Linked DNA regions of Homo sapiens. The protein of the gene in region 1 purifies or fractionates together with the protein of each later gene. This does not show direct contact. Each region holds a gene or a part of one and is shown in the gene's direction. Other genes may lie near its edges.

Evidence for each region. Proteins that work in one complex are often made in the same cells at the same time.
Region 2: the proteins of NUP50 (region 1) and CDCA2 purify together in Homo sapiens (affinity purification with mass spectrometry; 4 studies listed by BioGRID and IntAct, with this or other methods). This does not show direct contact.

Annotation. Positions count from the first base shown.
Region 1 is NC_000022.11:45,159,176-45,167,462, forward strand, and holds the start of NUP50 (nuclear pore complex protein Nup50), read left to right. Parts: upstream 1-4,749; 5' UTR 4,750-5,121; intron 5,122-5,495; exon of another isoform or gene 5,496-5,780; intron 5,781-6,689; exon of another isoform or gene 6,690-6,941; intron 6,942-7,104; exon of another isoform or gene 7,105-7,255; intron 7,256-8,287. UniProt on the Homo sapiens protein: Component of the nuclear pore complex that has a direct role in nuclear protein import. Actively displaces NLSs from importin-alpha, and facilitates disassembly of the importin-alpha:beta-cargo complex and importin recycling.
Region 2 is NC_000008.11:25,476,009-25,484,076, forward strand, and holds part of CDCA2 (cell division cycle-associated protein 2), read left to right. Parts: intron 1-3,904; coding exon 3,905-4,116; intron 4,117-7,390; coding exon 7,391-7,478; intron 7,479-7,957; coding exon 7,958-8,068. UniProt on the Homo sapiens protein: Regulator of chromosome structure during mitosis required for condensin-depleted chromosomes to retain their compact architecture through anaphase.

The DNA of each region.
Region 1 (8,287 bases):
CCCTCCCAAGTAGCTAGAACCACCACGTGCCACCACGCCCAGCTAATTTAAACAGTTTTCGTAGAGATAGGGTTTTGCCATGTTGCCAAGGCTGGTCTCAAACTCCTGGGGTCAAGCGATCTGCCTACGTTGGCCTCCCAAAGTGCTGGGATTACAGGCGTGAGCCACCATGCCCGGCCTGTTTTTTAAAAATTTTCCATTTTTGTTTTTTGACGAGACGAGGTCTCATTATGTTGCTCAGTCTGGTCTCCAACTCCTGGGCTCAAGCAATCCTCCTGCCTTGGTCTCCCAAAGTGTTGGGATTACAGGTGTGAGCCACTACACCTGGCCAAAATATTTTACAGTAAAATATTTTAAAACAAGAATTAGAAAAATATTAGCATTAGAAAAAAATGAAAATCTTTTGAGCTGTTTAGGGGAGAAAGCTCCAAGGAACTTAAAAACAAGTGATACTGTCTTATTTAACAGTCCATTTACTCAGCCCCATACTGTGTGCTTTACCTAAGTGTTCACACTTAATCTGTACAACCAAATGAAGGTACATAATACACCCTCGCTTTACAGATGAGGAAACTTGAGCTCAGAGCTCAGTTTGTCCAAGGCTGCCAAGCTGGTAAGTGATACGGCCAGGAGATTAACTCCAAAGCCCCACTGCCAGGCAGATAACAGAACATTTCCTGTTTTCATTCCTTAACATTAGGAGCAAAGTGTAGTTCTGTAGGCTTCCTGTTGGGTGTTTTCTGGTAAATCGTAACAGGAATGACTCCAGGTCGAGGTTTAAGCCTACCTAAAATGAAGGCCAGAACACAGCTAGAACACAGCAATATTATCTTGCCATTTTCTTTGCTAGGTTAAACTGGGCTTGAATGATCTGAGACATTTATGACCTGATCACTGTGGCAAAACTGATACAAAGCTGGCTCCTGGCATGGACCTCTAACAGCAGAAAGAAAGGCAGGATCACATCACCATGGACTCATTTGGAATCAGGTAAAGTAGGTAAACTGACATGTCTGGGTATTTATTTACTGAACATGATGACAATGACCCAGCCTAACAACCATCACAGTCCTTTGGCTCTCAGGGGTTAAGCAAATTGAAAGGGATTTTTGAAAGGCAGAGTATAGGAAAAAAGGGCTAACACCTTTGGAGGAGTATTTCATAACATGAGACTTGAGCTTCATTAAAAGGAAGTAGCCAAATTCAATGGAGGTAGATGTCTGCGTGCAAAGTGCCTCCATTCTTCTGAGTTATAGCCAGTTTAAAGTTGTCATTTTAGCCAGCAATGAAATCCATCCAGTAAGGCGCAAGACAGCTACAGTGCTATCATATACATAAATCTTTTTTATTTGCATTAGAAAGGCATCAGTTATTTCAATGCTACAATGTGTAATTAAGTAAATGTGTTAATCATTTGGCTTACCCTTACAATACTGTATTATTCCAAGAATGAAAGTTCTGATTTTAACTAAGCCACAATTCAATGTTGAGTACAAGAAAGTCTACCTCTACCTAAGCTGCCTCTATCCCTGACATGGTCACAACCTAGAGATCAAGCAGCCAGTTTGTCAGAGGCATTGGAACCAGAGCAATTCCATCTTGAAGAGGCAGTAGGTAAAATCAGGCAGAGACCTGTTGGCTGCATTCTTAGTAGTCACAAGATGTTTAGGGTTACAGGAACAGATTAATAACGTTCACTAAACAAACCCAGGACTTAACAGACCCAGGAAACATTTTGATGTCGCTGTATCTGTTAGTCCAAACTGCACCATTTTCTTTCTTTCTTTTTTTTTTTTTTTTGAGATGGAGTCTCGCTCTGTTGCCCAGGCGGGAGTGCAGTGGGGCAATCTCAGCTCACTGCAAGCTCCGCCTCCTGGGTTCACGCCATTCTCCTGCCTCAGCCTCCTGAGTAGCTGGGACTACAGGCACCCGCTACCACGCCCGGCTAATTTTTTGTATTTTTAGTAGAGATAGGGTTTCACCATGTTGGCCAGGATGGTCTCGATCTCTTGACCTTGTGATCCACCCGCCTCAGCCTCCCAAAGTGCTGGGATTACAGGCGTGAGCCACCACGCCCTGCCAAACTGCACCATTTTCTAAGCCCCCCGCCATTTCGCAGACACTGGTCAAAGCGAAACATTCCACGGGGGTTCAGGCCGTGAGAAATTTCCTGCCCAACTTTCTTACCAAACCCTGTTGGGTAAAGGCCCAATTGAAGGAACATCCCTATCAAACCTTGCTCAGCAAAGGTGCAAGGAACATCACTGTCACTTTCTGAGGGAACAAGGGCCAAACTGCCTGATCATAGAACGTTTTATGGATAGATATACTGGTAAGTATATTCACATGGCAAGCCATACTGCCCATTCCCCTCCTGCCCTATAAGTACCCCAGCCTGTAAGCAGCAGTGGGCTCTGGCATTAAGCTGATCCCCCATCTCTGTAGGTTTTTGCCATATACCTGTGTTGCTGTTGAGCTGCCCTTTGTTTTTTTTTTTTTTTTTTTTTTTTTTTGAGACGCAGTCTCACTGTATTACCCAGCCTGGAGTGCAATGGCGTGATTTTGGCTCGCTGCAACCTCTGCCTCGCGGGTTCAAGTGATTCTCCTGCTTCAGCCTCCCAAGTAGCTGAGATTACAGGCATGTGCCACCACGCCCCGCTAATTTTTGTATTTTTAGTAGAGATGAGGTTTCACCATGTTGGTCGGGCTGGTCTCCCACTCCTGACCTCAGGTGATGCACCCGCCTCGGCCTCCCAAAGTGCTGGGATTACAGGCGTGAGCCACAGCGCCCGACCTGTGTGTCATTCTTTAACTCTCGTCTTCCCTTCAAAACCTAACAATATCTTAAGATCAAAAGCATTCTTCATTTAGGTTTCGCTTTAAAGATAATATAGATCTTTGCCAAAGTCAGTAAACAAAGATGAACAATCCTTGTGTCAGGCCTCTGAGCCCAAGCCAAGCCATCGCATCCCCTGTGACTTGTACGTATACGCCCAGATGGCCTGAAGTAACTGAAGAATCACAAAAGAAGTGAAAAGGCCCTGCCCCACCTTAACTGATGACATTCCACCATCGTGATTTGTTCCTGCCCAACCTTAACTAAGTGATTAACCCTGTGAATTTCCTTCTCCTGGCTCAGAAGCTCCCCCACTGAGCACCTTGTGACCCCCCACCCCTGCCCACCAGAGAACAACCCCCTTTGACTGTAATTTTCCATTACCTTCCCAAATCCTATAAAACGGCCCCACCCCTATCTCCCTTCGCTGACTGTCTTTTTGGACTCAGCCCGCCTGCACCCAGGTGAAATAAACAGCCATGTTGCTCACACAAATCCTGTTTGGTGGTCTCTTCACACGGACGCGCATGAAACCTTGGTCGTGGGCCCTCGTGGTAGAGCCCATGTCCCCCAAGATTTCTTTGGCTGTGTTACCTTAGATTTGAACAAGCACTGTACCTAAGGCGGGCGCCTTCCTCCTCCCGCTTTCAGGAATGCCCTGCTCTGCCATTCTTTTGCTTTCTCACTTCTCTAATACACTTGCTTTCACTTTAGTCCGTGGACTCGCCCCGAATTCTTTCCTACGCGACATCCAAGAAGCCTCTCGCTGGGTCTGAGTGGAGACCTCTTTCTGGTAATAAACGGACTAGGGAGATTCGACTTTGAAGGTGAAAACAAAAACCACCATCCAGTTTATAAGAAGGCGCTCGAGGCCGGGAACGGTGGCTCAGGCCTGTAATCCCAGCACTTTGGGAGGCTGAGGTGGTGGGGCGGGGGGAGGGAATCACCTGAGGTCACGAGTTCGAGACCAGCCTGACCAATATGGTGAAAACCCGTCTCTACTAAAAATATAAACATTAGCCGGGCGTGGTGGCGCACGACTGTAATCCCAACTACTCGGGAGGCTGAGGCAGGAGAATCGCTTGAATCCGGGAGGCAGAGGTTGCAGTAGGCCAAGATCGTGCCACTTCACTCCAGCCTGGGCGAACAAGTTAAACTCTCCATCTCAAAAAAAAAAAAAAAAAAAGGGCGGCACTGGAAACAGCTGGGAGTGACAGGGCCAGGGATGAGGGATCGCAAGCTGCTGGTGAGAAAGGAGCTCAGAGGCTGCCTGGCCTACGGGCCAGGAGACCTCAGCGCAAAAAGCGCAGGACTCGTTCCCCTGCTCTACAGCTGAGTGCCCAGGACGGATCTCACTGGCTGAAAAAAACAGAAGAGAAGGCACCCAATGCAAAATCAAATGTCAGCGAACGAGGGGTCCTTTAACAGGCGGCCCACACGGCCCCTCCTGGCGCCGAGACCCAGCCCCTCCGGGCCACCCCGGCCAGGTACGACCAGCAGGGTCACCTGCGCGCGTCCCCCGAGACGGGGCCTCCTGATGTGAAGCGACCCCAGTGGCACCTCACACGATTCCCGAGGGTTGCGGGCGGCCTCTCCTCAGCCCTGCAGCTCCCACACGCGGACACCGCGGGCCTCGGCCATGTCCACTGACCGACCTTCCTCGCCGGAACTCCTCGCGCATCGCCGGCCCCTCAGCGGCGACTAGCGCGCGAACATCCTGGAAGACGCGTTGCCGGCCCCACGTGAGCCGACGCCCCAAAGCGCGGCTGCTGGCGCCGGCTACGAGATCAAGGTCGGCGCGTGCGCGCTTGCGCGAGACCGGCATTCTCAGCCCCGCGCCGGTTTCCAGGGAGCTGGGCGCATGCGCCGCGTAAGGGGCCCGGCCGGCGGAAGGAGGTGCTACTGCCGGAAGCGCCGGCGCGCTTGCGCAGTAGCTGAACGCGGGCGTTTCTTTCCTCCCTTTTTTTCGAATTGGTTTTGGGGGTAGATTCGAGTTACAAAATGGCCGCCCGGAGCGTGTTCGGCGCGGTTCCCCCAGCTGTCTCTGGCTGAACCGGCGCTCTCGCCTCCCTGCCGAACACAGCGTGAGGAGCCCCCCCAGGGATATGGTGTTTGAGTCTCTGGGCTTGCCGAGCACTAAGTCCTCTGAGTTCCGCAGCGCAGCACCGGAAGCGGCCGAGCGCGCTCAGCCCGGCGACCCCTGCGGGCTCCAGACCCCTGCGCCGCTGCGCCCCGGGTTTCGCCGCAACCAAGACCCAGCGAGTGCAGCGGCGGCCGCCGAGGAGGTGAGGAGCGGCGGCGGGCGCGGGAGGAGAAGAGGCTGAGGGCGGGAGCCTGGTGCTGAGAGCCCAGGGCCGGGAGGGCGGGAGCGGGCTCGGGCCTGGGAGGGGAGTGCGAGTGCAGGGCTGGGGACTGGACCCTGGGGAGGGAGGTGCGGGTTCAGCGCCGGGGGACGGGCCCCTGGGGAGGGGTGCGGGGCCGGGGGACCAGACCCTGGGGAGGGGCTTAAGGGGCTGGAGGACGGGACCCTGGGAAGTGGGGTACAGGGCTAGAGGTCGGGACTCTAGGGAGGGAGCCTGGGTCGGGCGCACGGGCCGGGCGGGGCGCGCGGTGGGGGAGCGACGGGTGGAGGGTGGGGTGGGATGACAGCGGCGACGCAGCCCCGGCTGTTTTTGAAGCGGGGCCCGGGCCCCACCGGGCTGCGGCGTCCGACTCGAGTGAGACTCTCCCCTGCGGCCCCGCCGGAGGTAGGGGGCTGGCAGGGCTGTCCTGGCGTGGTCTTCTCCGTTTCCTTCCTAGCGATTCCTCTCGAGCTTCCTCTCCCCCTGGCCGCCCCTCGTCTCTCTTCTCTTGGGCGCATTACCTCTCTGGCCTGTCTTACTGCGTTCCCGGGTTATTCATCACCCATTTGCTCGGTTCCATTAAGAACCAGCTTGGAGATTAGGTATTTCTGTCTCCTTACTTGGCCCCCTTGTTGTTTTCCTCCAACAAGGCACTTCACTATTAAGTGTAGCCAAATCTGTGTTTTCGTTTTAAGGTGATGTTGACAAGTTGAGCTTTCCAAGGGCAGAGCTACACCAGATGCCAGAGACCACATAACTATATCAGGCACAAATAATGTTTTTTTCCAGTTTACCTAGACTTTCAGTCTCCCACCACGTTGCTTCATACCTAGAAATCATGTCTAATTTGGTTTTTTACCCACAAACGCAAACGTTTTTTAAATTCCCTTTTATTGATTGTTTGATTGAGACTGGGTCTTGCTTTGTCACCAGGCCTCAGTGTAGTGGTAGCTCACTGTGTAGCCTGAAGCTCCTGGGCTCAAGTGATTCTCCTGCCTCAGCTTTCCAAGTAGCTGGGACCACAGGCGTGCGCCACTACGCTCGGCTAATTTTTTATTTCTATTCATCTAATCTATGTCCATCTTTATTTTCGTAGAGACCAAGTTGGTTTCCAACTCCTGGCTTCAAGAGATCCTTCCGCCTCCCTTAAGTTCTTCATAACAGTAGCTAGACATAAGACTCCAGGTGCCAGGCCTTGTTCTGAATATTTTACAGAGGGTTTTTTCTCCCCCCCACTTCTAGCATAAAAGTAAAATGTATTGTCTGAAGTGTCATGCTTTGAAATAAAATAGGGATTTGGTAAAATATTTGTAAAAATCTGGTTTGTAATCCAAGTTATTCTTCTTCCATGCTACAACTTTTACGTTTTGGAGGGAAAATGATAGTTTATAGCCTTTGCTTCTAATAAAACTTGTTTCTTTAATAATTTATTAAGCCCTTCCTCTGCTCCAGGCACTGTTCTAAGCCAGTCTTTGTTTATCTTAACTTTCTTAATACTTCCTGTTCCACAGATGAAGAAACTGAGGCACAAAAATTAAATATAACTTGCCCAAGTTCTCACAGCTAGAAAATGGCAAAACTGGGATGCCAGCATCTTTTAGTATTTTTTGAAATACTTTATGCTCACTGGGGAAATACTTCCCCAGCTCACTGATCTAATGACAGACAGGACACCTGCTGTTTGAGCTGGGCACTGTTGGGGCATTTGGAGTATATCTGTAAACAAAACAAAGATCCCTGCGTTTTGGTTATATACTGATTTGGTGAGTATGTTAGGACGTGGAAGCCCCTACATTTATTTAGACTATTTTACTGCGTCACCTGTCTCTTCATTGTGGGTATGAGTTAGAAGTTACAATTTTACTATTACAGTTTTTGTGTATTCAGCTCCATCCCTTTTTTCTCCACAGCTAATTTTTTTTTCTTTTTCTTTTTTTTTTTTTTTTTTTTTTGAGATGGAGTCTTGCTCTGTCACATAGGCTGGAGTGCATTGGCGCGATCTCAGCTCACTGCAACCTCCACCTCCTGGGTTCAAGAGATTCTCCTGCCTCAGCCTCCGGAGTAGCTGGGATTACAGGTGCCACCACCACGCCCAGCTAATTTTTTTATTTTTAGTAGAGACGGGGTTTCACCATGTTGGCCAGGCTGGTCTCAAACTCCTGACCTCAAGTGATCTGCCCACCTTGGCCTCCCAAAGTGCTGGGATTACAGGCGTGAGGCACTTCGCTGGCCCCACAGTTAATCTTAAATAGCAAACGTGACCGTTGGTGACTTCTTACTTCTCCAACCCTCTGGTGGAGACATTAGTTAATGAGTAGGAAAATTGCCAAAAAGAATCCGTACAGAGACCTGGTTTCTGCACAGTAAAGAATTATGTCTATTCCTGTATTTGTTTTTGTTTGTATGACAAAGATTAATGGCAAAACTTAACCAAGTGTTTTTGGGTGGACATTAAAAAGAGAGGGTTCCCAGCGAATGGAAAGTGTATTTATTTCTCATCCTTTATATTTTAGAATCTTGGACTTTAATATCATTTGTAATCAGAAAAATAGCATAAACTTACAAAATTTAAAAATCACTAAAATGTATTAAAAGCTGACAGCCCGTATGTAATTACTCCACTGGCCATCAAATTGTAGAGGCCTTTGGAATACCAGCATTTGCATTTTACTTTTAGATACTAAAGAGTGATATGTCACCTCATATCTTAGCGACCACTTTGTGGGGTTGTAATACACTCTGTATTACACAATACACCAGAATAAGGAAGCTTACTCTGGTGTATTGTGGTGTTGAGAGCAAACAAGAGTGGGGAGAGTATCACGAAGGAGTTCAGGCAGGTTTAACAAGACCTGGCAGGTCCCCAAAACTAATCAGTAAGTTTTTGGGCGAGGTGGGTAGCAGGGGAAATGGAAAGGTTTTTTGTCCAGCTGGAGAGTTAGTGAAGAAGGCAGCACAACACTCATAGCGGAGCTCTGGGTTGTGGGTTTTCTTTGTTTTGTTGTTATGATATTAAGATCAGAAAACAAATCGTAAATTTTAAGGGATGGACAGGAGCACCCTCTTTGGTTAGGTGCCGGAATCCACTGCAGAGTTCACGCCGTTCCCC
Region 2 (8,068 bases), on another chromosome or scaffold:
CTCTGTGTGTGGCACTGTGCCAGTTGGGAGAAGGGCAGCACAGTCAAACAGAAAAGTTTCTTACCACTTGTTTGTGGCTTTTCTCCATTCTGGGGTCCAAGGAGGTGTGTCAACCTCACTCCCAAATTCTGGGATATTCAGAATGTTATTTTTGCCTGCAGATAGTTGCTCATTGGATTTCTCTGGGAACAGGGAATGAAGCCACAGAACTCTTACTCCACTATCTCCCCCACATCACTCCAGTGTTTTTGTTTTATATCAAAGTACACATACGTAAGGAATTAGATATAATTCAGATTTAACTGGGCCCCTGCATCTTTATTTGCCAAACCTGGCAGCTCTACTCATGAGTGATCTGAGAGAAAGTTCCCTGGTAGCCTTTTGCAGTTCCTTGCTTCCTGTACCATTGAGAAAATAAGAGATTTTGGGAGCAAAGGTCTTGGTCCTCTCACCCCTAAGCCCTCCTGCATCTCTGTATGTGTGTATCTACCTTTGCTCCTCTTTCAAAAGGGTCTCAATGTTCTTACCTAGGGCCAGCCTCTTTTTTTTCTTTTTTTTTTTTGAGATGGAGTCTCACTCTGCCGCCCAGGCTGTAGTGCAATGGTGCGGCCCCAGCTCACTGCAACCTCTGCCTCCTGGGTTCAGGTGATTCTCCTAACCCAGCCCTCCTGAGTAGCTGGGACTACAGGTGCCCGCCACCACACCCAGCTAATTTTTGTATTTTTAGTAGAGATGCTGTCTCACCATGTTGGCCGGGCTGCTCTCAAACTCCTAACCTCTGGTGATCTGCCCACCTAGGCCTCCCAAAGTGCTGGAATTACAGGCATGAGCCACCACGCCTGGCCTCTACCCTCTTTTTTAGGGACTGATTCCCATTGCTCCTTCTCCTTCTAAGGACCTTGTGTCTGAGTTGTCTCCTCTCTTTTCTGAATTGTTAACTTTTCTTATTCAGCTACAAGATGCTGTAAAATATCCCATCTTAAACTTCCCTTTGCCCCAGGATTGCCTTCTAGCCAGAACACCATTTCTTTACTCTACTTTAGGCAAAACTTTTAAGAGAAGGCCACACTCTGTCTCCTTGCCTCCCATTCTTTCTTGATCCAGCTCCAAATAGGCCTTGTTGACCAGCCATCTCCTGGCTGCCAACCCAGTGGTAGTCAGACTCAACACATTCCTTTCCTTGATGTCTTAGCAGCACTATGGACGGATATAGACATCTACAACCAGGCCCTCCTGTGAGAAGCCTTTTCCTCACCTGGGTTTCAGGATGTCATTCTCATTTTCCCTTGCATCACTGACCATTTCCTCTTTGTGTATTTTCTTTGCTCCTCTTCTTTCATCCTGACCTTCAAATATTTGAATGCCCCCCCTCGACCTTCATGTTCGGTGCTTGGACCTTTTGTCTCTATATACAGGTTGAGCATCTGTAAGCCAAAAATCCAAATTCTGTAACTTTTTGAGTGCAAACATGACACTCAAAGGAGATGGTTATTGGAGCATTTCTGGATTTTCAGGTTAGAGATGCTTGACTGGTAAGTAGAATGCAAATATTTCAAAATCTGAAAAAAATTTGTAATCTGAAACACTTCTGATCCCAAGCATTTTGGATAAAGGATACCCAATGTGAACTCTTTCTAGGTGACTTCAAACATTATCACATGCTGTTGACTTCAAATTAAAATAGTTGCCCGTGGCCTTTTCCCGGAACTCTTGAATTAAGTATCCAGCTCCCTTTCATGACCTTCACTTGAATGCCTAATAAACATCTCAAACTGAACATAGTCAAATAGGTCTTGATGATTTTTTCCTTCACCAACCTGCTCATCTCTGTTTTCCTCATCTTAGTAAATGACACTCTCATTCACCTCATTGCTGTATCTCAAATATTGGACTTAACTTGATACCTTTCTTTTTCTTTTCCTTTTTTTTTTTTTTCTTAAGTTAGAGTCTCGCTGTCACCCAGGCTGGAGTGCAGTGGTGTGATCTTGGCTCACTGCAGCCTCAACCTCCTGAGCTCTAGGAGTCCTCCTACCTCAGCCTTCCAAGTAGCTGGGACCACAGGTGCTCACTACCATGCCCAGCTAATTTTTTTTTTTGGTAGGTACAGGATCCTACTATGTTGCCCAGGCTGGTCTCCAACTCCTGGGCTCAAGCAATCCTTCCATTCCACCTTGGTCTCTCAAAGTGCTGGGATTACAGATGTGAGCCACTGCACCCAAGTGATACCTCCCTTTTTCAAATGAAACTTGTAATCGCATTGACAAATGCTACTAGGTCTTCAAAATATGTCAAATGTCCACCCACTTCTCACCTTTTGCATTCCTATCAGTGTGGTCCAGGCCATCACCATCTCCTGCCTGGATTTTTTTATGTATCCTCTGAAGTGGTTTTCCTGCTTCCCCTCTTTCCCCAATCCCCTGTTACAGTTTTTCACACAGTAGCCAGAGCACTGGTTTTAAAATGTAAGTCACAGTATCTCACTGCCCTCCTCAAAATCTTTCATCGACTTCCTGTTATACTTAGAGAAGTAGCCAAAGACCATATTATTTCTACTAGGCCTTCCCTGGCCTGGTTCTTAACCTTTGCTCTGAGCTTATTTCTCAGCTCTCTTGTCCATGCCCACTGTTCCAGCCACAGCAGCCTTGCTGGGCCTCTGCTATGCCAGGTACATCTTTACCTCAGGTCTTTGCACTTGGCTTTGTGTGCATAATGTCCATCCCTAGATCTATGTGTGGTTCGCCTTGTTCTTTTCAGGTGTCTGCTCAGGAACTCTCTGTTTACCCAAAGCAGTAGCACTTCCTTCCAGCTTATCATACTGTATTCCTCTCTTGCTACATTATTTTCCTTAATAGCATATATTAACTACTTGTTGTGTGTGTGTATATATATATATATATATATATATTAACTTTTTACTTGAAATAACTATAAATTTGCTATCTAGTTGTAAGAAATAATATAAAGAAATCCAGTATTCCCTTCACCTAGTTTCCCGCAGTAGTGACATGTTGCATAGCTACGATATATTAATATCACAACCAGGAAATTGACATTGCTACAATCCACCAACTTGTTTTCAGATTTCACCAGTTTTACATGCACATACTTTTTGTGTATGTTTAGTCCGTGTGGTTTTATCACATGTGGATTCATGTGAGCACAGTACAGCCAAGCCACAGCATGGTTCTGTCCTGAGGATCCTCATGTTACCCTTCATAGCCATCACTCTTTCCCTCTCCCTCCTCCCTGCTGTGAGATTTTATAATCCCTGCTTATTCCGTGCTGGTTTTGGGGGTTTGCTCATCTTTACTTCTTCAGCACCCAGAGGAGTGCCTGTCACATCATGTATTTGTTCAATGGATCACTTAATCATAAGGCAACGCTCTCCTGTGGGAAGAATTTGGGAAGAAAAGCCACGCCTGTTTGGGGCACATACAGTGTGTTTATAGTTTGGTGTGATGATCTTTCTTTTCTCATTCCTGCCACCCTCGGATGTTGAAATGCCTGTGACTCTAGCGGTAAAATTGCTTATTAGTCAATGCTTGGCTCAGATTAGTTTTTATGGTCCAAGTAGTGGGTGTCATGAGTAGAGGCACGCTAATAGCTTATAGCTGATTCATGATACCTTCTTTCAACCTCTGACTCAGAGATTTCCTGGGGAGCCAAATCCCCATACCCACTTTACCCTTCGTAGTCCGATTTGAGGTAAAAACTGACCGATGCTGCTTCTTTACCTCCTTTTCTGTTTCCAAATGAAATCCCAGACGTTACTGCCCAATCAGGTTATATTAGGTTTGAATTTCTTCATAGCATGTTATTATCTTTGCAAATACTATATTTTTGGTCTAGAACAAACAGATTTAAGAGATCTTCTGCCTCTCAAGTTTACATGTTTATCTTGAAGCACTAAAGGTTGCTGACTGTGTAGTGGGCAAAGGATCAAGTGATGCCGTTTCGCCTGACACGTTCACAGCAGAAGTGAGCTCAGACGCAGTCCCTGATGTCAGGTCACCAGCTACTCCAGCCTGCAGGAGGGACCTTCCCACCCCCAAGACCTTTGTACTTCGTTCTGTACTGAAGAAACCCTCTGTTAAGATGTGTCTAGAGAGCTTACAGGTAAGAAGAGAGTTAAATTTCCTAAAGCAAATGAATAAAAATGCATTTTGCTTCAAAGTAATACCCTTGAAATGTCATATATCATGCTAGTTTAAAAGGAAATGTCTTACTCGTCTTACCGTAAATTTTTTTCCTCATCTTTTCTTATTAACAACACTGGGTGTAGTTTCTTTTTGTTCTTATTTTTAAAAAATTAAGTATCGTATATAGCATGCAGAATTTAATGTAAGTAGACTGTAGTTTATAAAGGGTCATAATCTTACATAATCTTATTGCACTAACATAATTATATGTTATTGATTCATTTTATATAATTATATAAGTGATATTAATTACTTAATCATAATTAATGTGTCAATCTGTTAAACTGATCATTCCACCCAAAATATTTAGTCTTAAAAGTACCTCTTATAGCCATCCTTTTTTCTCGAAGCTCAGTCAATATGAGGAAAGAGAAAGTTGATGGGAACTAGCTGGCATTTATTGAGTAGTTTCTGTTGACAGTTCTGGCATATATATATAACAGTAGTGCTCCGAGAAAGGTATAGGACCTGTTTGACATACACTTAGGCTTGTAGGTTGTTAAGTGAACCCAGATAAGTCTGCTGTTAAAATCCATGACAGGCTGTCAGTCCATGAGAGGTTGAGAGCCTAGCCTCAGGAGTCAAAATGCCAAGTTTCAGATCTTGACTTGGAAATGTAATCACTGAGCAAATTATTTGACCTTTCTCTGCCTGGTTTCCTTATCTATAAAAATGTAAAGTTGGTAACTACTTTTAGAGTAATTTGAGCATTAAATGGGATAATATAAAATCACCACGAGTGTCTGGCACTTCAGAAATACAAATCTTTTTTTCAAACCATAAGCATTTTAACATACAAGTATGCCTACAAGCCTGTTCTGATTTGTTCTGAAGCCAAAAGGAACTAAATTACCTTCTATTTACATGGATCATTGATGGTCAATTGCTATTTGTAAAGCTTTAACAATTTTGTTCAAAGAGCTGATTTGGGGCCAGGTACAATAGCTCACACCTGTAATCCCCTGACTTTGGAAGGCCAACACTGAAGGATCGCTTGAGCCCAGGAGTTTGAGACCAGTCTGGGACAAAAAAAAAAAAAAAAAGCTGATTTGGGTCTGTAATACACACAGCACTGTTTGTTCATATCTTCTCCTCAAAAAGACTTAACATCTGAACGATCCATGGAACTCTTACTTTCTAACAATATGACACAGCAAATATTAAGTCTTGTCATTAGAATCATGTGAAAACATTTACAACTGGCCGGGCGTGGTGGCTTATGCCTGTAATCCCAGCACTTTGGGAGGCCGAGGCAGGTGGATCACAAGGTCAGGAGATAGAGACCGTCCTGGCTGACACAGTGAAACCCCATCTCTACTAAAAATACAAAAAATTAGCCGGGCGTAGTGGCGGGCACCTGTAGTCCCAGCTACTCGGGAGGCTGGGGCAGGAGAATGGCGTGAACCCAGGGGGCAGAGCTTTCAGTGAGCCGAGATTGTGCCCCTGCACTCCAGCCTGGGCAACAGAGCGAGACTCCATCTCCAAAAAAAAAGAAAAGAAAACATTTACAACTAATGATCTTTATACTAAGATGGCAAAAATTAGGAGGCATATAAAATGTGAGTTGTTTGCTGACTTTTCTGATTTAGTTAAAAATAAATCTAAAAGTAAACATGAGCTTTGTTGTATAAGTTAACTTATTTTGCAATATTGGTATGTACATTTTCCTGGTCAGAAAAATGAACTGACTTGAGAGACAGATGAAGGAGATTTGTTTGGGGCAGGACTATTTCTTAGAGCAGGTAATGTTCTTAGAATTGGATGTACAGGAGAAAATGAGGAATTCTTGATAACAAGGACTGGTCAGAGGTTTAGGTTGAGGCCGGATGAGTAGGTGGTGATTAAGAGGGAACTTTGATCCAGTCTGCAGCCCTGGCTGTCTCCTGCTGAGCTCCAGGGGCCCTGTGTTTAGACTCGTTCTGTCTTTTTATACAGGGCTTACAATATCCCTTCTTTCCTAACTTGCCTACACTGTATTCTTTATTTGCAGAAACACACAGGGACAACTGCTACCTTCTTTCCTTGTTTCTTCCTCAAGAATATAGTAATGTAAAAAGATTCAAATACTAAGAATAGGTGTGGTTCCCATGTTTAAAAGACAGAACACGATGTTATACCATTTAACTGTTGGCTTTTTTTCTTGTTTTAATGCAGTTCTTCTATCTGGGATCATTTACATAGTTTTCCTCATCTGACACCATATATGGTACTTGTAACCTTCAAATCTGTTGGTTCTGCATCCATGGATTGAACCAACCACAGATCAAAAATTATCAGGGAAAAAAGTCACAAAACACATAAAAACAATAACATATAACAGCATCATACCATACATATTAACAATACCATGTAACAATGCCATTTAAAAGTATTCTTTTAGGTTGGGCTCAGTGGCTCCCAGCTGTAATCCCAGCACTTTGGGAGGCCGAGGCACACGGATTGCTTGAGCTCATGGGTTCAAGACCTGCCTGGGCAACATGGCGAAACCTCGTCTCTACAAAAAAATACAAAAATTAGCTGGGTGTGGTAGTGCGCACCTGTAGTCCCAGTTACTCAGGAGGCTGAGGTAGGAGAATGGCTTGAACCTGGGTGACAGGTTGCAGTGACCTGAGATTGCACTGCTGCACTCCAGCCTGGGTGATAGAGCCAGACCTTGTCTCAAAAATAAATAAATAAATAAAAAGTATGCTTTTACATGACATTTACATTGTATTAGGTATTATAAGTATTATTTAAAGTATACGGGAGGATGTACTCAGGTTGTATGTAAATAGTATGCCATTATATAAAAGGGACTTGAGCATCCGTGGATTTTGGTATCTTCGGGGGCCCTAAAACTAATCTCCCATAGATATTGAGCAATGACCATATGCTATTATTCTAGCTACTCACGTTTTCCTTAGCTTTATTTGCTAGATCAAACATTGAATGAATTTGACCCATGTTTATTGATTTCTATGCTTTAATTTTGCCCTAAAATTCTGTTTTCTAAAGTAGTATCTAGGGGACATAGTTATGATTTGTGCCTGATATCATGGTTTTGAGCCAGAACAATTATTGAAAATAAAGGTAATCTTTAATACTGGAATATCTATCTGCAGTTGACAGAGAATTTCAAAACTGCTGTTCTTAATGATGACGTCTATGTATTTCTATATGTAAAATTATTCATTAATGTTTATTCTGTTTAGGAACACTGTAACAACCTCTATGATGATGATGGGACTCATCCGAGCTTAATCTCAAATCTCCCAAACTGTTGCAAAGAGAAAGAAGCAGGTAAGAAATTCATACTTGTTTTTAAGCTTGAGGATATCATTTTCATGTTAGTAAAACCTAGTATAATATATGAAATTTTCAATGATCTATAATGCCTTAGTGCTTCTGAAATAACACGTGAATGAAGAACAGTTGAGAAGGTTAGAATCTCCTTGGAGAGCCTCAGAATTGGTCTGTCCATTTCATGGATCCATTTTTACTTAGTGGTGGTATTTGTAAAGAAAATTTATATTTCAATTTTATTAACGTTTAATATGCAAATTTTTACTTGGAAATCTGTTGCCATATTTTAATTGGAAATGTGCTTATCTTCTCCATTTTGAATTTGCTCTACCAACAATTATTTTATAGCTTTGCTTTACTAGCTATTATACAAATAATAGCTGAATATTATCACATTAAAAGATTCTAGTATATGCCTTTTAGATAAGAAATATAGCTTAATTTTTAAGTTACTCTCATTTATTGTCTAATTATAGAAGATGAAGAAAATTTTGAAGCACCTGCCTTTCTAAATATGAGGAAGAGGAAGAGAGTTACTTTTGGAGAGGACTTAAGCCCGGAAGTGTTTGATGAATCTTTGCCAGCAA